Linked DNA regions of Homo sapiens: region 1 is linked to region 2. Evidence: fine-mapped QTL for protein levels in blood plasma. A gene starts in region 2. The other region holds a variant in brackets. All regions are shown on one strand. Distances are between the middles of the regions.

Region 1 (8,000 bases), 450 kb after region 2:
CTACAGACATGTGCCATCACACCCAGCTAATTTTTTTTTTTGTACTTTTTGTAGAGATGTGGTTTCACCATGTTGCCCCGGCTGCTCTCAAACTCCTCAGCTCAAGCGATCTGCCTCCCTTGGCCTCCCAAAGTGCTGGGATAACAAGCATCAGTTACCAACGTCCAGCCGAAAACAACCCTTTTGGTGACAATGACAATATGAAGAAAATGATTACACTAACCGTGGAGGGCCTCTGCACCATATTCTCCAGCCTGGTGTGGCTAAACTCGAGGCTGATGACATTATAGAGTTTCTCTCGCTCCTCCTCTGGGGTCTCATAGTAGCGTGTCCACTGAGCCATGGTCATTTCAATGCCTTTCTGTGTGTTCACGTCCATGACATCCACCATGCGACGACTCCCTGCCATAAAAGATGCATCGATCATCTCTATCGAGCCACTAATATCCTTAAATATAGTAAGAATATTTTTTAAAAAGTAGAAGAAAAAATACTGTCCTTTCTTATTTTCAATAATACACAAGGAAAAAGTTCTCACTCAACAATCATAATCAAATCACAAAGAATGGGAAAGACAATGGATAATGTTAATAATAATTATTCCCTAAGGCATGTTTACTATACAGTCAGTTGTTGACTCTTTTATCTAATGTCTCATTTAATCCTAACAATTCTAAATGCTAAATACTAATCTCCACTTCATACATGAGAAAGCAGATGTTAGGTAACTTACAGAACAAAGCAGGAAAAGAACCGGGGCAGGCTCACTCTAGAGTCAAGCTCTTACTTACTGATCTATACTGATTTGATGCAGGTTGACCTAATCTATCTCATAATTTGAATGAAGTATCCATAATTTAGTGGGTAACAGACTGATTTTGAATTTATATTCTTTTGTTAAACAGGGCTATTTCGCAAACCTGTTGCTAATATCCTAGCCCATGAAGATAATTATCCTAGTTCATGAAGAACAAAGTCCCCTTTTCATTTATTCCACAAATATTTATAGAATGATAAAGACACCAGGATGGACACGAAAATCTATATCAGATTCTTGTTAACTATAACAACTACAACAAAACGCATAAGGCCACAAGAGTCAGCATAAAATAGTAGTGGAGAGAAAACAATAGCTTTGGAGTCAAAGAGACCTAAGTTTGTTTATTTATTTTTTAGAGACGGAGTCTCGCTCTGTCGCTCAGGCTGGAGTGCAGTGGCACGCTCTCGGCTCACTGCAACCTCCCACCTCCTGGGTTCAAGCAGTTCTCCTGCCTCAACCTCCACAGTAGCTGGGACTACAGGCACACGCCACTACCCCACCTAATTTTTTGTATTTTAGTAGAGACGGGGTTTCACCATGTTGCCCAGGATGGCCTCCAACTCCTGAGCTCAGGCAATCCGCCTGTCTTGGCCTCCTAAAGTGCTAGGATTACAGGCGTGAGCCACCATGCCCAGCCTATTTATTTCTTTAATTTTATTTTGAGACAGTCTCGCTGTGTCACCCAGGCTGGAGTGCAGTGGTGCGAAATCTTGGCTCACTGCAACCTCCACCTCCCAGGTTCAAGAGATTCTTGTGCCTCAGCCTCCCAAGTAGCTGGGAATATGGCCGTGTGCCACCACGCCTGCCTAATTTTTGTATTTTTGGTAAAGTCAGCGTTTTGCCATGTTGGCCAGGCTGGTCTCAAACTCCTGACCTCAGCTGATCTGCCCGCCTTGGCCTTCCAAAATGCTGGGATTACACATGTGAGCCACTGCACCTGCCTGAGACCTAAGTTTAAATCTCAGCTCCTATACTACTTAGACAAGTTATATAATTTCTCTGAACATTAATATCTTGTGGAGAATGAGTATCACCTTGTGGGCCACTGTGAAGATTTAAAGTCGATAAAGTAAAATGTTTAATACAAAGTAGGTGCTCAAGCGGCAGTAAAAACAAAAGGGAAGTATCATATTTTTATTAGACTGATCAGAAAAGGCTTTAGGAAAAGAGGGAGAAGAATAAGTAGAATTCTAACAAGAGATGATTCAACAGGGACAATTCCATGCAGAGGTAAAATATAAGCTAAAAGATTCAGAAAATGGTGGTCAAGGAAGGGAGAGAAAATAAAAAGCTGACAATATTGTATGTCTGGCCGGGCACGGTGGTGCACATCTATAATCCCATCACTCTGGGAGGTCAAGACGGGCAGACAGCTTCTGTCCAGGAGTTTGAGACCAGCCTGGGTAACATAGCAAAACACCGTCTCTACTAAAAATACAAAAAAAATTAAACATACACACACACAAAACAAAAAAATACAAATACAAATACAAAAAATTAGCTGGGCATGGTGGTGCGTGCCCGTAATCCCGGCTACTCGGGAGGGTGAGGTGTGAGAATCACCTGAGCCCAGGAGGTCGAGGCTGTAGAAAAAAAAAATTTATATCTATTGTCTTCCTTGTAAGACGAACAAACACCTGCCCTGGCTGGATGTATCAGGTAGCATTAGAACCTGATACCCTGTCTCTAAGGAATTTATAGCTTAGTTAAAGATAGGAGATAATACCCAAGAGAAGAATATGGCCACTGTGAAATAGACAAGGCAGAATATATATATTACTAGTAAAACATAACTAATAATGTAAGGCAATGGACAGAACCTACACTTCATATTTTAAAAGAAAAAGTGAATGTCAAATCAAAACTGCCAAGAAATACCACTTCACACCCACTAGGATCGCTATAATTTAAAAAATGGAAAATAATGAGTGCTAGCAAAAATGCAGAGAAATTGGAACCCTCATACATCTACTGGTGGGAATATAAGATGGTGCAGCCGCTATGGAAATTGGATTTGCAGTTCCTCAATAAACTAAACACAGAATGACCATGTGACTCAGCAATTCCACTTCTAGGCATATATCTAAAAGAATTGAACAAGGTGTTCAAACAAAAGCTTGTACATAAATATTCACTGCAGCACTATTTAAAACAGCTAAAAGATGGAAATAACACAAATGTTTACCATGATATGAATAAACAAAATGTGGTTGATCCATACAAGGAAATAGTCGACCATAAAAAGGAATGAAGTACTAATACATGCTACAACATGGATATACCAAGAAAACACACTGTATCAGCTGGGTTTGGTGGCTCACGCCTGTAATCCCAGCACTTTGGGAGGTCGAGGTGGGTGGATCACGAGGTCAGGAGATCAAGACCATCCTGGCTATCACGGTGAAACCCCATCTCTACTAAAAATACAAAAAATTAGCCAGGTGTGGTGGCAGGCACCTGTAGTCCCAGGTACTCGGGAGACTGAGGCAGGAGAATGGCATGAACCCAGGAGGCGGAGCTTGCAGTAAGCAGAGATCACACCACTGCACTCCAGCCTGGGCAACACAGTGAGACTCTGTCTCAAAAAAAAAAAAAAGAAAAAAGAAAACACACTGTATCAAAGAAGCCTACACAAAAGGCTACATATTATATAGTTCCATTTATATGAAATATACAGATTAGACAAATTCACCAAGACAGAATAGATTTGTTGTTGCCAGGAGTTAAGTGGAGGAGAAAACGGAGAATGACTGCTCAAAGGTATGGAGTTTGTTTGGGGTGATGAAATTCTAGAACTAGATAGTGGTGATGGTTGCACACTGTGAAAAAACTTGATGACACTGGTATGCTTTAAAATGGGTACATGACAATGAAATGTTCTATGCAAAAAG[A/G]AAAAAACGTAATGGTTATGATGGTAAACTTTATATTACCTGTATTTAACCATAATTTAAGAAATAACAAGTAAATGCTTTCCTTCAAGAATGTAGGGGAGGCCAGGTGTGGTGACTCACGCCTGTAATCTCAGCACTTTGGGAGGCCGAGGCGGGCAGATCACTTGAGGTCAGGAGTTTGAGACCAGCCTGGCCAACATGGTGAAACCCCATCTCTACTAAAAATACAAAAATTAGCTGGGCGTGGTGGTACGCGGCCATAGTCCCAGCTACTTAGGAGGCTGAGGCAAGAGATTTGCTTGAATTCAAGAGGCAGAGGTTGCAGTGAGCCAAGATCGCACCACTGCACTCCGGACCTGGGCGACACAGCAAGACTCTGTCTTAAAAAGAAAAAAGAAAAAAAAAAAAAAGAATGTAGAGGAAAGCATTTTATTCTTTTTTCCTTTTGAGATGGGGCCTCACTCTGTCACCCAGGCTGGAGTGCAGTGGCACAATCTAGACTCAATGCAACCTCTGCCTCCCAGGCTCAAGTGATCCTCCCACCTCAGCCTCCTGAGTAGCTGGGACTACAGTGCATGCCACCATACCCAGTTAATTTTTTGTATTTTTGGTAAAGACAAGGTTTCACTATGTTGCCCAGGCTGGTATTCTTTTATTACTAGACTACTTATTTATTATATATTTTATATTATATATTATATAAAAATATATTAATATATATTAATAATTATTAATAATTAATAAATATAATTATATTAATATATTATTTATTATAGACTATTTATTACTAGACTATTTTGTATTTTCAGACTACTTAGTATAACCATATCTTGGAGATATTGTGGGTTCAGTTCCAGATCATTGCAATAAAGCAACTATTCCAGTAAGCAAGTCATACAAAACTTTTTGGTTTCACAGTGCATATATTTACATTATACTGTAGGCTATTAAGTGTACAACAGCACTGTATCTAAAAAACAAGGTACATACTTTTATTTAAAAATACTTTATTGCTAAAAATGCTAACAATCATCTGAGCCTTCAGTGAGTCATAATCTTGGCCTGTGGAGGAACTTGCCTCATTGTTGAGGGCTGCTGACTGATCAGAGTGGTGGTGGTTGCTGAAGGTTGGGGTGGATATAGCAACTTCTTTTTCTTTCGCTGAAGTGTAAACCGTTTTTCTTTTTTTTTTTTTTTGGCGGCGGACGGACAGGGTCTTGCTCTGTTGCCCAGGCTGGAGTGCACTGGTGCAATCACAGCTCACCACAGCCACAAACTCCTGGACTCTGGTAATCCTTCCACCTTAGCCTCCGGAGTAGCTGGGACTACAGGCACGTGCCACAATGGCTGGCTAATCCTTTAATTTTTGCCGATACAAGATCTCGCTGTTTCTCGGGTCGACAATTTCTTTTCTTTTTTTTTTTTGAGACGAAGTCTCGCTCTGTCGCCCAGGCTGGAGCGTAGTGGCGCGATCTCGGCTCACTGCAAGCTCCGCCTCCTGGGTTCACGCCATTCTCCTGCCTCAGCCTCCTGAGTAGCTGGGACTACAGGTGCCTGCCACCATGCCTGGCTAGTTTTTTTTTTGTATTTTTAGTAGAGACGGGGTTTCACCATGTTAGCCAGGATGGTCTCAATCTCCTGACCTTGTGATCCACCCGCCTCAGCCTCCCAAAGTGCTAGGATTACAGACGTGAGCCACCATGCCCAGCTGACATTTCTTAAAATAAGACAACAATAAAGTTTGCAACATGGATTGATACTTCCTTTCACAAAGAGACTTCTCTGTAGCATGCAATGCTGTTTGATATCATTTTACCCATGGTAGAACGTCTTTCAAAATTGGAGTCAATCCTCTCAAACCCTACTGCTGCTTTATAAACTCACTTTATGTAATATCCTAAATACCTTGTTATTTTAACAATGTTTACAGCATCTCCACCAGGAGTAGATTCCATCTTAAAAAAACAAACTTCTTTATTTGCTCATCCATAAGAAGCAACTCTTCCATCTGCTCAAGTTTCATTATAGATTGCAGCAATTCAGTCGCATCTTCGACTCCATTTCTAATTCTAGCTCTCTCACTATTTTCACCACATTTGCAGTTACTTCCTCCACTGAAGTCTTGAACCCCTCAAAGTCATCAATAAGGGTGGGAACCAACTTTTTCCAAACTCCTGTTAATGTTGATATTTTGACCTCCTCCCATGTACCACAAATGCTCTTTTTCATTTTAATTATTTTTTTTAGAGACAGGGTCTCACTCTCATGCCCAGGCTGGAATAGAGTGGCAAGATCAGAGCTCATTGCAACCTCGAATTCCTGGGCTCAAGTGATCCTCCCACCTCAGCCACCCAAATAGTTGGGACTACAGGTGTACACCACCAAGCATGGCTAATTTTTTTTTTTTTTTTTTTTTTTTTTTTTTTTTGAGATGGAGTCTAGCTCTGTTGCCTAGGCTGGAGTGTGGTGGGGTGGTGTGATCTTGGCTCACTGCAACCTCCGTCTCCCAGGTTCAAGTGATTCTCCTGCTTCAGCCTCCCAAGTAGCTGGGACTACAGGCCCATGCCACCACACTCGGCTAATTTTTGTATGTTTAGTAGAGACCAGGTTTCACCATACTGGTCAGGCTGGTCTTGTACCCCTGACTTGTGATCTGCCCACCTTGGCCTCCCAAACTGCTAGGATTACAGGCGTGAGCCACCGCACCGGGCCATGGCTAATTTTTTGTAGAGATGGTCTCACTATGTTTCCCAGGCTGGTCTCAAACTCCTGGCCTCAAGGGATCCACCACCTGGGCCTATCAAAACATTGGGATTACAGACATGAGCCACTATGCCTGGCCATAAATATGTTCTTAATGGCATCTACAGTGGTGAATCCTTTCCAGATGTTTTTCAATTTATTTGGTCCAGATTTACCAGCAGAATCACTATGTCAGCTATAGCCTTATGAAATATATATATATACACACACACACACACATATATATATATATATTTTTTTTTTTGAGACAGAGTCTTGCTCAGTCGCCCAGGCTGTAGTGCAGTGGTGCAATCTCGGCTCACTGCAAGCTCCGCCTCCCGGGTTCACGCCATTCTCCTGCCTCAGCCTCCCCAGTAGCTGGGACTACAAGCGCCCGCCACCACGCCCGGCTAATTTTTTTTCTATTTTCAGTAGAGACTGGGTTTCACCGTGTTAGCCAGATGGTCTCAATCTCCTGACCTCGTGATCCACCCGCCTCGACCTCCCAAAGTGCTGGGATTACAGGTGTGAGCCACTGTGCCAGGCCATGAAATATATTTCTTAAATAATAAGACTAAAGTTGAGATTACTCCTTGATCCATGGGCCACAGAATGAATACTGCTATCTGGCATGAAAACGGTATTAATCTCAGGCAAGGCATGGTAGCTCATGCCTGTAATCCCAGCACTTTGGGAAGCTGAGGCAGGCAAATCCCTTGAGCCCAGGAGTTCTAAACCAGCCTGGGTAACAGGGTCAAACTGTGTCTCTACCAAAACACAAAAATTAACTGGGTGTGTTGGCATGTGCTTGTAGTCCCAGCTAAAGGCTGAGGTGGAAGGATCACCTGAGCCCAGGGACACTGAGCCTGCAGTGAGCCATGATTGTACCATTGCACTCCAACTTGGGCAACAGAATGAGACCTTGTCTTAAAAAACCAAACAGGCTGGGCACGGTCGCTCACGCCTATAATCCCAGCACTTTGGGAGGCTGAGGCGGGCGGATCATGAGGTGAGGAGATCGCGATCATCCTGGCTAACATGGTGAAACCCCATCTCTACTAAAAATACGAAAAAAATTAGCCGGACGTGGTGGCGGACGCCTGTAGTCCCAGCTACTCGGGAGGCTGAGACAGGAGAATGGCGTGAACCCAGGAGGTGGAGCTTGCAGTGAGCTGAGATCGTGCCACTGCACTCCAGCCTGGGCAACAGAGAGAGACTCCGTCTAAAAAGAAAAAAAAAAACCACACAAACAATATTAATCTCTTTGTACATTCCCATCAGAGGTCTTGGGTGAAGAGGTACACTGCCAGTGAGCAGTAACATTTTGAAAGGAACCTTTTTTCCTGAGCAGATCTCCACAGTGGGCTTAATAAATTCAGTAAACCATGCTGTAAAACAGATGTGATATCATCTAGGCTTTGTTGTTCCATTAATAGAGTAGATTTAGCATAATTCTTAAGGGCCCTAGGATTTTGGAATGGTAAATAAGCTTTTTTTGGAATGTTAAATTTGGTTTCCAATTAAAATCACCAGCTGCATTAGCCCCT
Region 2 (14,712 bases):
CCTCACACACACATGCCCGTAACAGGATTTATCACAAGACACGCCTGCATGTAGACCAGACACAGGGCGTATGGAAAGCACGTCCTCAAGACTGTAGTATTCCAGATGAGCTGCAGATGCTTACCTACCACGGCCGTCTCCACCAGAAAACCATCGCCAACTCCTGCGATCAGCTTGTGACTTACAAACCTTGTTTAAAAGCTGCTTACATGGACTTCTGTCCTTTAAAAGCTTCCCCTTGGCTGTGGCCCTCTGTGTATGCCTGGGATCCTTCCAAGCACTCATAGCCCAGATAGGAATCCTCTGCTCCTCCCAAATAAATTCATCTGTTCTGGAGAGCCTATCTTTCTGAGGTTGACACTTATCTTGCAGAATGGGGTTCCCACCCATCTTTGATCATGAAGGAAATCTCAGATTTAGAACTATGTTGCCCAGGCTGCTCTTGAACTCCTGGGGTCAAGCAGTCTACCTCGGCCTCCCAGAATGCTGGGATTACAGGCGTGAGCCACCATTCCCAGCCCACATTTCTTAAAAATGGTATTTCAGTCCAAACCTTAGTAATACAATCGATGTTTCTAATTGTGTCCTGCTTACAGGGACCAGGGTTTGTTTTTCGTTTTTGTTTTTTGTTTTTTTATTTTTTGAGGTGGCATCTCCCTCTGTAGCCCAGGCTGAAGTACAGAGGCACAATCTCGGCTCACTGCAACCTCTGCCTCCCGGGTTCAAGTGATTCTCCTGCCTCAGTCTCCCTAGTAGCTGGGATTACAGGTGCCCGCCACCATGCCCAGCTAATTTGTTCTATTTTAGTAGAGATGAGGTTTCACCATGTTGGCCAGGCTGGTCTTGAAATTCTGACTTCAGGTGATCCTCCCACCTTGGCCTCTGAAAGTGCTGGGATTACAGGCGTGAGCCACTGTGCCCAGCCCTGAGAGCAGGGTTTTTGTTTGTTTGTTTTTGTTTGTTTGTTTTACTATATATAAATAAGAATGTTCATGAATAGTTTCTGAATTTTGTAGGAATCAAGTAGGGAGAAAAAATGAATAAGTTCCACCTTTGTTCACAAAGGACCCTTGATCGAGTTATTGCAAATGTCGATCAAAAGAGTCAAACTCTGTACAATATTTAAGAGACTTATTCTGAGCCAAAGATGAATGACCACGGCCCGTGACACAGCCCTTAGGAGATCCTGAGAACATGTACCCAAGACTGTCAGGTCACAGCTTGGATTTATACATTTTAGGGAGACGTGACGCATCAATCAATACGTGCAAGATATATGTTGGTTTGGTCCAGAAAGATGGGACAACTCAAAGCAGGGGCTTCCAGGCTATAGGTACATTTAAAATTTTCCTGGTTGACAATTGGTTGAGTTTATCTGAAGACCTGGGATCAACACAAAGGAAATGTTCATGTTAAGATAAAGGATTGTGGAGACCAAGTTTTATTGTGCAGAGGAAGCTCTCAGATAGTAGGCTGTAAAATCTTTCTTTTTCTTTTTTTTTTTTTTTTTTGAGATGGGGTCTTGCTGTGTTGCCCAGGCTGGAGTGCAGTGGAGTGATCTCAGCTCACTGCAACCTCTCCCTCCTGCGTTCAAGTGATTCTCCTGCCTCAGCCTCCTGAGCAGCTGGGATTACAGGCGTGCACCACCACGCCTGGCAAATTTTTGTATTTTTGTAGAGACAGGGTTTCATCACGTTGGCCAGTCTGGTCTTGAACTCCTGACCTCAAGTGATCCACATGCCTCGGCCACCCAAAGAGCTGGGATTACAGGTGTGAGCCACTGCACTGGCCTGAAGTGTTTCTTATCTAACATAAAAGGGTGCCTGGTTCTTAGTTGATTATCTCCTGGATCTGGAAAGAAGTTAGAAAAAAGGGAAAATGGGATTCTCTACAGAATGTAGATTTTTTCCACAGGAGACAACTTTGCAGGGCAGTTTCAAGATATGGCAAGCAAATATATTTGGGGTTAAAATATTTTGATTTCTTCTCTTATTTGTTATGTGAGGTTATGCCAGAGTCAGGTCAGAAAGCAGACCACGCTATAGGGTTAAAATTAAAGCCTCTCTGATGAGACTTTATGGTTTGTAGGGTGTGACTCCCCAGGCCCCTTAGGGAGGAATTTGAGCAAAATAAGAACAAAAAAAATCAGAGTTTAGTCCTCACAAACTATAGGCAGGTTATGACAGAAAATTTCCTTGAATCTGCAAAACAAAATGAGGTGATAGTCTCACATTTAAGTCATAAAAACATTATTCATATCAATTACTTAATTTCATGTAATTATTTTTGTTTTGCTCAATCTTTTTATTTATTTATTTTTAAGACAGAGTCTCGCTCCATCACCCAGGCTGGAGGGCAGTGGTGCAATCTTGGGTCACTGCAACCTCCACCTCCCATGTTCAAGCGATTCTCCTGCCTCAGCCTCCTGAGTAGCTGGGATTACAGTTGCCCGCCACCACACCAGGCTAATTTTTTTGTATTTTTAGTAGAGGCAGGGTTTCACCTTGTTGGCCAGGCTGTTCTCAAACTCCTGGCCTCAAGTGATCCATCCACCTTGGCCTCCCCAAGTGCTGAGATTACAGGTGTGGGCGACAAGCCACCCAGGTGCCAAGGCAAGAGACTGAGGGCACAAGCTGTCCCAGTATAATAAAGAAAATATATAGAATAAGAATAGTTATACTAGAAATAGATTATAGATATGATTGTATATGAGTATCATTAATCATTAGTTTGTAGCATCACTCTTTATTCCAATATTATAATAATCTTTGTTCTATAATTATAACCCAGGAAAAACCAGGCCATACAGAGATAGGAGCTGAAGGGGCACGGTGAGAAGTGACCAGATGAGTGTGAGCCCTCTGTTACGCCTGGACAGGGCCACTAGAGGGCTCCCTGGTCTAGTGGTAACACCAGCACCTGGGAAGGCATCCATTACCTAGCGGACCTTGGTCTAGGCGTAGCATCAGTGCCTGGGGAAGGCACCCGTTACTTAGCAGACTGGGAAAGGGAGTCTCCCTTTTCCTGGGGGAGTTAGAGAAGACTCTGCTCCACCACCTCTTGTGGAAGGCCTGACATCAGTCAGGCCCACCTACAGCCATCTGGTGGCCTGTCTCCCTGTGATGCTGTGCTTCAGCGGTCACGCTCCTGTTTCACATTCATGTTATGCTCCGTACACCTGGCTCTGCCTTCTAGATAGCAGTAGCAGTATTAGTGAAAGTATTAAAGTCTTTGATCTTTCTGAGAAGAGCATAGAAGAAATAATGATGTAAGCTGTCCTCTGTCTCTCCGCCTTGGCTACCTAAAGGGAAAGGCCCCCTGTCTGGTGGACACTTCACTCGCGTGACTTTATCAATCATTGGAGATGACTCACACTCCTTACCCTGCCCCTTTTACCTTGTATCCAATAAATAACAGTGCGGTCAGGCATTTGGGGCCACTACCGGTCTCCACACCTTGGTGGTAGTGGTCCCCTGGGCCCAGCTGTGTTTTCTTCTATCTCTTTGTCTTGTGTATTTATTTCTACCATCTCTCATCTCCACACATGAAGAGAAAAAACCCACATATCCTGTAGGGCTGGACCCTACAACAAGCGTGAGCCACTGCACCTGGCCAGTTTTGCTCAATCTTAATTAGCAATTTTGGACCATAGCCAATTGTGAATGCTTCCAGAGAAGAATTTAAAACAACTGTGGGTGGCAGGGCATGGTGGCTCACGCCTATAATCCCAGCATTTTGGGAAGCCAAGACGGGAGAATCACTTGAGCTCAGGAGTTTGAGACCAGCCTGGGAAACATGAGACCTTGTCCTTATAAAAAAATAAAGACAATTAGCTGGGCACAGTGGAGCACCCCTGTAGTCCCAGCTACTCAGGAAGCTGAGGTGGGAGGATCACTTGAGCCTGGGAGGTTAAGGCTGAAGTGAGCTGTGATCACGCCACTGTACTCCAGCCTGGGCAATAGAGTGAGACCCTGACTGAAAAATAAGAATTAACTGTGGGTGACAAAAGCCCAGAGCAGCCAGTCAGAGATCTGATGACAATTTACAATTGACAGGAAATTTCAGCATTTCTTTTTTTTTCCTTTTTCTTTTTGAGACGGAGTCTCACTCTGTCACCCAGGCTGGAGTGCAGTGGCGCATTCTCAGCTCACTGCAAGCTCCGCCTCCCAGGTTCACACCATTCTCCTGTCTCAGCCTACCGAGTAGCTGGGACTACAGGTGCCCACCACCATGCCCGGCTAATTTTTTATATTTTTAGTAAAGACAGGGTTTCACCATGTTAGCCAGGATGGTCTCAATCTCCTAACCTCGTGATCCACCCGCCTCGGCCTCCCAAAGTGCTGGGATTACAGATGTGAGCCACCGTGCCCGGCCAGAAATTTCAGCATTTCTCTGGCATACAACCATGTGACACAACCATCACAGTCATGACACATATCTTGGCATATCAGAGTTTTAGGAATCTCAAACCTTTTCCCCTGTGTTAGTGACACACTTACACAAACATTACTTAAAGGAAGTTAAACACCGTTTCTATTTGACAATGCTTCCCATATTATTTACCAAGTAAGCCTGATCATTTAATATCTCCAAAAGATCAGAGACAAAACCTTTGAGGCTTGTTCCAGGAGGCCCTTTTGGTAGAATCTCAAAGTTGATTTTAGGCCAGATGGCTTAATTTAGGATTTGGATCCTGGGGAATTCTGCCAAAGAGGATGTCAAAAAGTTCAAATGGCTTCCTTCAACAGAATCAGAGATCACTGCCGAATAATAGTTACTCGTTTAACCACAGTGACAATCAAAAGAATTCAAAAGCAACACGAAAAGTTACATGCATGGAAAAACCTTAACACTTTAAAGCTCAGTCTCCCTAAGCAATCTGTGTTTCCTAGGCTGGTGAGCAGGGGAATACATTAGTAATACCATGGGAAGTCCTGGTTACATGAAACAACTCAGACACATTAAGAAAAACCAAGAACACAGAATCAGTTTATACTGGCGTAAAGCTGCTTTTCTAGACCTTTGAGATAAACCTGAAACCAAAGAAATTAGACTGATCTTAAGAAGGAATATGACAGAAACAGAAACTAATTTGTAATTCAGAGAATGGCTATTAACGAAGCAGGTTTTAGAAATAAATATCAAAACCTCTTGGAACTTTACTAAGAGTGAATTAATGTCTTAAGAAACTGCTGTTTTTTGTTTGTTTGTTTTTAAGACGGAGTCTCGTTCTGTCACCCAAGCTGAAGTGCAGTGGTGTGATCTCGGCTCACTGCAAGCTCCGTCTCCTGGGTTCACGCCATTCTCCTGCCTCAGCCTCCTGAGTAGCTGGGACTGCAGGTGCACGCCCCCAAGCCTGGGTAATATTTTGTATTTTTAGTAGAGACGGGGTTTCACCATGTTAGCCAGGTTGGTCTCAAATCTCCTGACCTCATGATCCACCTGCCTCGGCCTCCCAAAGTGCCTGGATTACAGGCATGAGCCACTGCGCTCAGCCGAAACCACTGTTGTTTTAACACAGGGGACCAAAATTGTAAGTTATGTATCATGTGTTTTAACATTCAAATTCATTCTCTAGAAAAACTGTTACAGGCCAGGCATGGTGGCTCATGCCTGTAATCCCAGCACGTTGGGAGGCCAGGATCACCTGAAGTCAGGAGTTCAAGACCAGCCTGGCCAACATGGTGAAACCCCATCTCTACTGAATATACGAAAATTAGCCAGGCATGGTAGTGCACGCCTGTAATCCCAGCTACTCAGGAGGCTGAGGCAGGAGACTCACTTGAACCCAGGAGATGCAAGTTGCAGTGTGGCAAGATCGAACCACTGCACTCCAGCCTTGGCAAATGAGCAAGACAGCCAGACTCCATCTCAAAAAAAAAAAAAACTATTACAAATCATTTCATTTAATTACAGCCAATTTAATCACACCCAACATTTCCATCATAAGTTCCCATTCACAAGCCTTATCATGACTTACTCAGACAGCTGTGGCATGCTTGGACTTGCCCTGTACTTCCTCTTTCTTAAATGTCTAGTCATTTTAGTCCAAGACAGAGATTGAACACACAAGTTTCTTTCCTATACAAAATTACTCTCATTGCTTCACATCTGTAATTTTCTTTACATCTCTGTCTCATCTACTTACTGGTTCCTTTTAATCTTTTTTCTATTTCTTTCCTAAATCCATATTTTAAAACTCCCTTTAAATAACAGCTAAATTAGACAAATTACTTTTTTTCTCAATAAAGAATATATTGTATACCTTTCTTACTGTTTTCTTATTAAGTGCTCCTTACTTTTGGCACACTTCCTATATAGAATTGTATATTAGGATTTTTAAAAACCCTTAGTACTCTTAAATTTTTGTTTTTAATTATCTTTTTTCTTTTTTTGAAACAAGGTCGTGCTCCATCACCCAGGCTGGAGTGCAGTGGCATTGATTTTGGCTTACTGGAGCCTTGACCTCCCTGGCTCAAGTGATCCTCCCACCTCAGCCTCCTGAGTAGCTGGGACTACAGTAGGCATGTGCCACCACCCCTGGCTAATTTTTTCTTTTTTGTTTTTCAGTAGAGACAGAGTTTCACTATGTTGCCCAGGCTGGTCTGAACCTCCTGATCTCAAACGATCCTCCTGCTTCAGCTTCCCAAAGTGCTGGAATTACAGGCATGAGCCACAGTGCCCATCCAGTTCCCTTAAATTTTGTTGAAAACATAGGAAGCACAAAATCTTGAACTTCCTATCACATATTGGTATTTTATGGGGAAGAGCCATTTTGTAATTGTTAGAAAAACATGTTTTCCTATAGCATAATTTTTATACGTATTTATAGGCCCAAACATATTTAGTCTTTATATTAAATTTAAGAGACCCAGGGCAAACATATTTATGGTCAGCAATTTGTTCCAGTTTTTGTCTTATTTGGAAATAACTCACATAGTTAATGAGTATCCATTACCTAATAGAGGATTTCAAATTACATTAAAAAGCCGATAGATACTTATCCCATTTACCTTTACATACTTTATTTATTTTTAGCAGTTTACCAGGATTACTTATGAGAACTGATATATTAGACAAAGCTAGTCATCATTTCAAATTATTTATCTGTTAATTACCTTTATATAGCTGGATGTCAGGCAACTATCATAAAAGTAAGAACCTTTAAGGCCGGATGCTGTGGCTCACGCCTGTAATCCCAGCACTTTAGGAGGCCGAGGTGGGCAGATCACGAGGTCAGGAGATCAAGACCATCCTGGCTAACACAGTGAAACCCCATCTCTACTAAAAAAAAAAAAAAAATACAAAAAATTAGCCGGGCGTGGTGGCAGGCGCCTGTAGTCCCAGCTACTCGGGAGGCTGAGGAAGGAGAATGGCGTGAACCCGGGAGGCAGAGCTTGCAGTGAGCCGAGATCACGCCACTGCACTCCAGCCTGGGCGACAGAGCGAGACTCCGTCTCAAAAAAAAAAAAAAAAAAGTAAGAACCTTTAAGTTACATTTCAGAAGGCACACCATTCCCATCAAACCAACAATTTTAGACTAGTTCCATTCACCAAAAGATTACTGTCATGTGAACTTGAAAAGCACTTGGTCTTATTTGCTTAGTTTATGAGTACTCATTTCTTTATAAGCCAATTCGGTACCATAGCCAAATATAACCGGACGTGTACATACTACCAGATACAAATAACGATCCTATAGCTTTAACTTTTAAAGGTTTAGCCATGGGTCAGGTAAAATTCACTACTTAAAAGACAGTTCCAACTCTGTCTCCGTCCAACTAACAATTTTAGCTAAAATTTATCTCTCCCATACAGCAGAAGCCCTTTCCTAAATTTTAGGAAGAACACGGTAGAAAGGAGACAGGCAAAAATTTGGCTCTAGTGTCGGAAAACCCGTGAGTCTCTCCCACAGCAATTGTTACCCGATCTAGGGGTTCCCAGATCATAGAGGAGTCCCCAAGTCCCATCACTTCTGGTCACTATTAGCAAACTGTAGCATCTGGTGGGCTGATTGACGGGGAAGTTTCTTTCCCTACCCACTGGGGACAGTTAGGACACTCTAGTACCCAATGGCCCTCTTGTTTACAATATGCACACTGTTGTGTTCTCAAGGGCGGGAGGCCCTTTGGCCGGGCAGTGGGGTCCCTAGGGATCTTACTTATGGCTGATCATCTCCAGTGAACTGTTTTGTTTTTTTGTTTTTTGTTTTTTTCAAGAAAGAGTTTTGCTCTTGTCGCACAGGCTAGAGTGCAATGGCGCGATATCAGCTTACAACCTTCGCTTCCTGGGTTGAAGCGATTCTCCTGCTTCAGCCTCCCGAGTAGTTGGGATTACAAGTGCCCACCACCATGCCTGGCTAATTTTTTATATTTTTAGTAGAGACAGGGTTAGCCATGTTGGCCACGCTGGTCTTGAACTCCTGACCTCAGGTGATCCTCCCGCCTCAGCCTCCCAAAGTGCTGGGATTACGGACATGAGCCACCACGCCTGGCCGCAGTGAACTGTTTCTTGTGTACTGGCTGGTTGTAGCCAAGAGACTCGATGGCTTCTTGTCTTGTGTTGCCTTTTTGTTTTTTGTTTTTTGTTTTTTTTTTGCCCTTCCTGGACCTGGCCACAGTTGCTCAATACCTTAAGGGTAATCTCAACCAATGGAGATGTCAGCATCCCCAGTGTCCCTTCTGCTTTTTGTAGTTTATCCGCATGGCTTCTGCCACTGGAGTCCTGCTACAATTACTGTTTTCCCATATTACCCACCCAGCAGCTTAGAGGCGGGATTGGTGGTGACACAGATCCCACAACTCTTGGCCCACACTCAACTAGTTTTAAAAATATATTGGTGGGGAGGGGCGGGCATGGTGGCTCATGCCTATAATCACCACGCTTTGGGAGGCCGAGGTGGGTGGATCACTTGAGCTTAGGAGTTCGAGACCAACCTAGGTAAGATGGTGAAACCCTGTCTCTATAATATTAGGTTGGTTCAAAAGTAACCGCTGTTTTTGCCATTGAAAGTAATGGCAAAAACTGCAATTACTTTTGTACCAATCTAATTTTTTAAAAATTAATTAATTAAAAAAAATTGGAAGGCATAGATTTCACTCGGCAAGGCAGGAAATCTTGTAACTGCTCTATACTGTGGCTCTGCCGACCGCCCGGCACTGCTCCAGCAGATGCAAACTGCCCGAGATTTTGATGAATTCACTGAAGGAAATAAAGACATTGTGTTTAAAAACACAGCAGAAAGGTTGGGTGTGGTGGCTTATGCCTGTAATCTCAGCACTTTAGGAGGCTGAAGGGGGTGGATCACTTGAGCTCAGGAGTTTGAGACCAGACTGGACAACATAGCAAGACCCCATCTCAAAAAAAAAATTAGCTGGGTGCGTGCCTGTAGTTTCAGCTACTTGGGAGGCTGAGATGGGAGGACTGCTTGAACCTGGAAGTTGGAGGTTGCAGTGAGCCACAGTCGAGCCACTGCACTCCAGCCTGGGTGACAGAGCCGGACCTTGTCTCAAAATTAAAAAAAAAAAAAACCCACTGCAGAAGACCTTCAGAATTGCTTGCCTCTAGAAACCATGCTTTCCTCAGAACATCTAACCCTTCAAAAACTACAGCAGCAGCCAGAACCCACCATTCACGCTGACGCATTCCTTTGTGATAAAGACTTCATTGATTCATTATGTGACAAAGGGAAAATGAGCAGAAACTACTGGGTGGTTCACACCAAACAGAACCTTTAGACCGATTGCTCGTTCCTTCTCCCTCATGGAATTGAAGTTCATTTATCTTCATGCACTCCCTGATCAATCAGGAAAGGCTGTGGCTGACGTCAGCTCCAGGCTCAGCACAGTCTTTATGGGGTGATCTTATAGCTTAGCAGTGCAACCCTGTGGAGTAGAACTGAACGGAGACTTTTGCCAGTTGCAGGAAATGGTCATTAAAAAATACCAGTTTATTCACAGAATAAAGGTGCTTCATGCAGACATCTGTCCCCAGGGTTTCTTCTGCAAAATGCTGATGCTGCTATCATGAATAATGTCTTCAAATATTCTCTTAATGAGGCAGAACAAGCCGGAGCTGGGAATACATTTGTCATAATGTAAGGAAGCAGATCATCATCAGTGACAGTGCCAAGTCTTGAAGATTCTCTCCTGGGTCTTCAGACTAATACACATTTATCTCCCTGGGTTGAAGAAGTACTGTGGGACTATGATGTATACCCACAAAAGGATATTGACAAAGAAGCTCTTTATTTATTTATTTATTTATTTATTTATTTATTTATTTATTTATTTTCTTTTGAGACAAGGTCTCACTGTGTTGTCTAGCCTGGAATGCAGCCATACGATAACGGCTCACTGTACTCACGGTACGATTACCTCCAACTCCCCGTGCTCAAGTGATTCTCCCGCCTCAGCCTCCTGAGTAGCTGGGGCCACAGCTGTGTGTGCCACCACCTGGCTAATTTTTTTTTTTTTTTTTTTTTGAGACAGAGTTTCGCTCTTGTCGCCCAGGCTGTAGTGCAATGGCATGATCTCGGCTCACTGCAACCTCTGCCTCATGCCTCAGCCTCCCAAGTAGCTGGGATTACAGGCACCCACCACCATGCCTGGATAAATTTTGTATTTTTAGTACAGACGGGGTTTTGCCATGTTGCCCAGGCTGGTCTTACACTCCTGACATCAGGTGATCCACTCGCCTCAGCCTCCCAAAGTGCTGGGATTATAGGTGTGAGCCACCGCGCCCACCCTAATTTTTTTTTTTTTTTTGGTAGAGACAGGGTCTCCCTATGTTGCCCAGGCTGGTCTTGAACACCTAGGCTCAAGCAATCTGCCCCCCTTGGCCTCCCAAAGTGTTGGGGTTACAGGTGTGAGCCACTGCACCCAGCTGACAAAGAAGCTCTTGAACAAATTCATTTAATGAGATTCTCTAGCACTAAAATAGTCCTACCTCATTGTAATGTTTTGTAGAGTATCTTATAAAACAATGAAAAAAAACCAGTATTTTAATACATATTTTTCTGTATATTTCCTTCTAGCCTTTGTACATATGATCACATATTTGTAAAAAGTTGTATGTATATATATACAACTTTACCCGCTTTGTGTGATGATATGACAAAAACATTTATCTGAAAAAAGTATTTTTTTCATCAAATGGCAGAGCTCCTGTTTCTGGTAACCCGGGGTATGGCAAGTAGGGGCTCTGGGAGATGGAGCAGCTCAGCCTCCTGTGAAAAATTCTGTTTCTCTAAAAAAGAACAAATTCTCATGCTGGGCGCGGTGGCTCACGCCTGTAATCTCAGCACTTTGGGAGGCCGAGGCGGGCGGATCACGAGGTCAAGAGATCGAGACCATCCTGGCTAACACGGTGAAACCCCGTCTCTACTAAAAATGCAAAAAATTAGCCGGGCGTGGTGGCGGGCGCCTGTGGTCCCAGCTACTCAGGAAGCTGAGGCAGGAGAATGGCGTGAACCCGGGAGGTGGAGCTTGCAGTGAGCCGAGATCGCGCCACTGCACCCCAGCTTGGGTGACAGAGCCAGACTCTGTCTCAAAAAAAAAAAAACGAATTCCCAAAACTAGTCCCACTGTTGTCTACCCAGATCCGGGATCCGGGTTGCCCTTGGCCTGGCCAGAGATGCCTCTCAATCCCCCACGGCACGTAGAGCCAGACAGAAACCGAAAGCAGAGGTGCCCTGCGCTGAAGTCTAGAGATCCCACTGCTAGGTCCAAAGAATTTACCCTTTCAGTCAACCCACGGGGCAAAGTCCACTTTCTTCCCTGAAGGAGCAGCACAGAACAAAAGCTCCAGGCAGCTGCTTCCGCTGTTTCGGGGGTAGGGCGGAGTGACAGCCCCACGGGCCACGCAGCAAGCAGAAGATCCCCGGGAGTCACCCTCAACCCTCTGGGGCCACGTGGGTGAGTTCGCCCGGGGAAGGTGCCGCGGCCCACTGCTTTACCTTAGTGAGCCTCAAGAAGTTAGGATCAGAATCCCAGTCGGCCCCATCTGGGTCGCCAGAGTTTTGTTACCCACACAACGGGTGGGCTCAGTTGCTTGGCGGGTGTTAACTAAAGAGGATTTAATAGGGGATTTTATTTCTTGCAACAAGTAAGGAGAACACCTAGACAGCTCCCAAAGCAGTGTCTCCCCGAGCTGAGGGCTGGGGCAGGTTTTATAAGCATAGGGTAATGAGGCGTGATCTGATTGCATCTTGCAATGAGGTGATGCTGGGAGGCATGATCTAATTGGATGCTGACACAGGGGGGAACCACAGCTCTGACCCCTCTCTGGGTCTCAGTTTCCCCAACTGCAGTGAGGAAATTGGCCCCCGTGATGATGCCCATGACATCACCATCCTCTGCCCTCACTCATGCTGGGGTCTCCATGTGCCCATTTTCAAGCTTGTGCCCGCCCTTTGTTCCTCACTCCCCACAGCTGCCCTTGGCCAGGACTTTCACAGGGTGGAGCCAAGGCCCAGAGAGGGCACTGAATCTCTCCAGGTCACACAGCCTGTCAGGGAGGTGGGGCCAGAGCCAGGTCACACGTGTGCACACAACACACACACACGCACACATGCTCACGCACATGCACGCACACACGCTCTCAAGCACATGCACACATGCACACACATGCACACACACTCTCATGCACACACGCACACATGTACACACACATGCATGCACACATGCACACAATACTCTCATGCACATGCACACACGTACACACGCACACATGCATGCTGTCACACATGCGCACACACGCACACATGCTCTCATGCACACACGCACACATGTACACATACATGCACACATGCACACAATACTCATGCACATGCACACACATGTACACACGCACGCACACACGCATGCTGTCACGTACACATGTGAGTGCACACACGCACACACATGCTCTCATGCACACGCACACATGTACAGATGCACACATGCATGCACACACATGCACACACGCGCACACACTGCCAGGACTGGGGGCTGCTGTTTCTGAGGGTTCCTGGACCCCGTTCTGTTCCATAAACACTCACTGAAATGCAGAAGCTGGACCCCAGCCAAGGGAAGTGAAACTTTCCAGCACCCCTACTGCTGTTCTCCCTAAACTTGGGGGCCCAGCACCTTGTGGCAGGAAGCACCCTGGCCCCCAGCAGCCCCCAAAATAGCTAGGTCTGCCACGGAGGCCCTTCCTTCCTGAGAGGTACCACACCGAGTCAGCAGGATCCCAGCCTCTGTGGGGGTTGGGGGGGCCTTCCAACAAAGACCATGGCCTGGGACTCATAAAGCAGCATGGGGGTCCCTGAGACCCCTACCCCAAGCAAGGAAGGAACAGACCCAGGCCGACAGGCTCCTCTGCTGACTCCCTCTCCCACCACCTGCCAAGGACTCAGTCAAGTCACCCAACCCCTAGAGCTTCAGTCCACACCTGCAAAATGGAGCCGGTGACAGCTGCCCCCAGGGCTGGGCCGGATACAGGAGTTGATGGCATGGCATGGCCCCCTAATGGCAGTCTCTGCCCTCCCTTTGCTGAGGCTCCAGGTGCCAGGAGGAGTGGCCCCTGGAGGGGGCTCATAGGGAGCCCCGGCCCACTGGGGGCTCAGCCTCACACTCCATCCACCCCTCTTGACACCCTGTCAAGATCCCAGCTGCCCTGATGGGAGCCAGGATGACAAATCCCCTGTCCCCACAATCGCCATGCTCTGAGCTCACGAAGCCTTGGGTGTGGAGGGCAGGAGAGCCCAGGCCACACAGAGCTGAGTGTGATCTGGGGCAGCTTCCGAGAGGGTGTAACTTAGAGGGTCCTGGCCACCCAGAGCCCCCCAGGCTGGTGGGCCTGGCATCTGGAGCAGGGCTGGACTGGCCCGGGGAGACCCAGTGTGGTGGTAAAGAAGGCCCAGGATCGATGCCTGGGGGAGGCTCCAGCTCAGGGTCCCAGCACCTGGCATCCAGCAGGCCCTGGCGGAGCAGCTTGCCTCACTCCCCAGTGACTTCGGAACTGGCCTCAGCTCCTCCCAGCAGACAGCTGAGCCTGGTGGGAGGTAGAGGCCCCAGGGCTGAGTGCAGGGGACCTCACCTTCATCCTTCCCCACTTTGCTCTTGAGAGGCAGCAGGAGGGGATGGAGCCACATTGGACGCACTGAGTGCCACCTACAGCCCGCCTCTAGGGCTCTGTGCGCCACCTGCAGCCCGCCTCTAGGGCTCTGTGTGCCGCTGAACAGTCTGCCCCTAGGGTTCTGTGGGCCACCTGCAGCCTGCCTCTAGGGCTTGTGTGCCTGCAGACAATTTTCTGAGCCTCAGTTTTCACATCTATAAAATGAGCCTGAGGGTTGTTCCCAAAACAGGGCAAACCGAGTCATCTGAGTTACACTGTCCTTGAAAATGACTGAAATCCCGGATCAAACATTTTAAAATTTTGCTTAAAGCAACAAAGAGCTGTAAAACTGGGGCTCCACATGGCACCTTTGGGTAAGGGCGACTCAGGAGTGACCACAGCCCTCTCCGGGCTGCAAGGACAGAGGCATGTTGCCGAGGTGGTGAAGGAGGGGCAGCTTGTCATCTTGGTGGCCATCAAGGTGACACCTCTATAGTAACTTTCAATAGCCTGCTCTGGTGGTGACCAAAACCAAGTCACCACCCCACTGCGGGTGTACCTCTTAGTAGTGTTAAGGAAGGTGGCCCCTCTGGGGCCCAGCAGAAGGACGAAGGG

Alleles and levels. Positions count from the first base shown, and alleles are read on the strand shown. Strength reflects both the effect of a copy and how common the allele is.
As copies of G replace A in region 1, the plasma level of the protein whose gene starts at base 11,768 in region 2 goes down (weak association).

The links. PIP is the chance, under the fine-mapping model, that this variant and not a neighbour inherited with it causes the effect. The UK Biobank Pharma Proteomics Project read protein levels with antibody pairs (Olink). The fine-mapping took linkage between variants from a reference panel, not from the people measured, so its PIPs are less certain.
Region 1: its variant is fine-mapped to the plasma level of the ACY3 protein (UK Biobank, PIP above 0.99).

The regions. Positions count from the first base shown.
Region 1 is chr11:67,199,912-67,207,911 of GRCh38, reverse strand. It overlaps KDM2A (lysine demethylase 2A), which reads right to left. Exons shown (of 21, transcript NM_012308.3): 6 at 224-402. Among named protein-coding and RNA genes, the nearest start is that of GRK2, 63 kb to the left of the region's middle. The variant A/G (reference allele first, on the strand shown) is at 3,712.
Region 2 is chr11:67,647,786-67,662,497 of GRCh38, reverse strand. It overlaps ACY3 (aminoacylase 3), which reads left to right and starts at 11,768. Exons shown (of 8, transcript NM_080658.2): 1 at 11,768-11,915. ALDH3B2 (aldehyde dehydrogenase 3 family member B2) reads left to right here. Exons shown (of 10, transcript NM_001393402.2): 10 at 1-343. RefSeq lists enhancers at 11,487-11,546, 11,617-11,696, 13,427-13,846, 13,374-13,896, 14,307-14,386 and 1 more.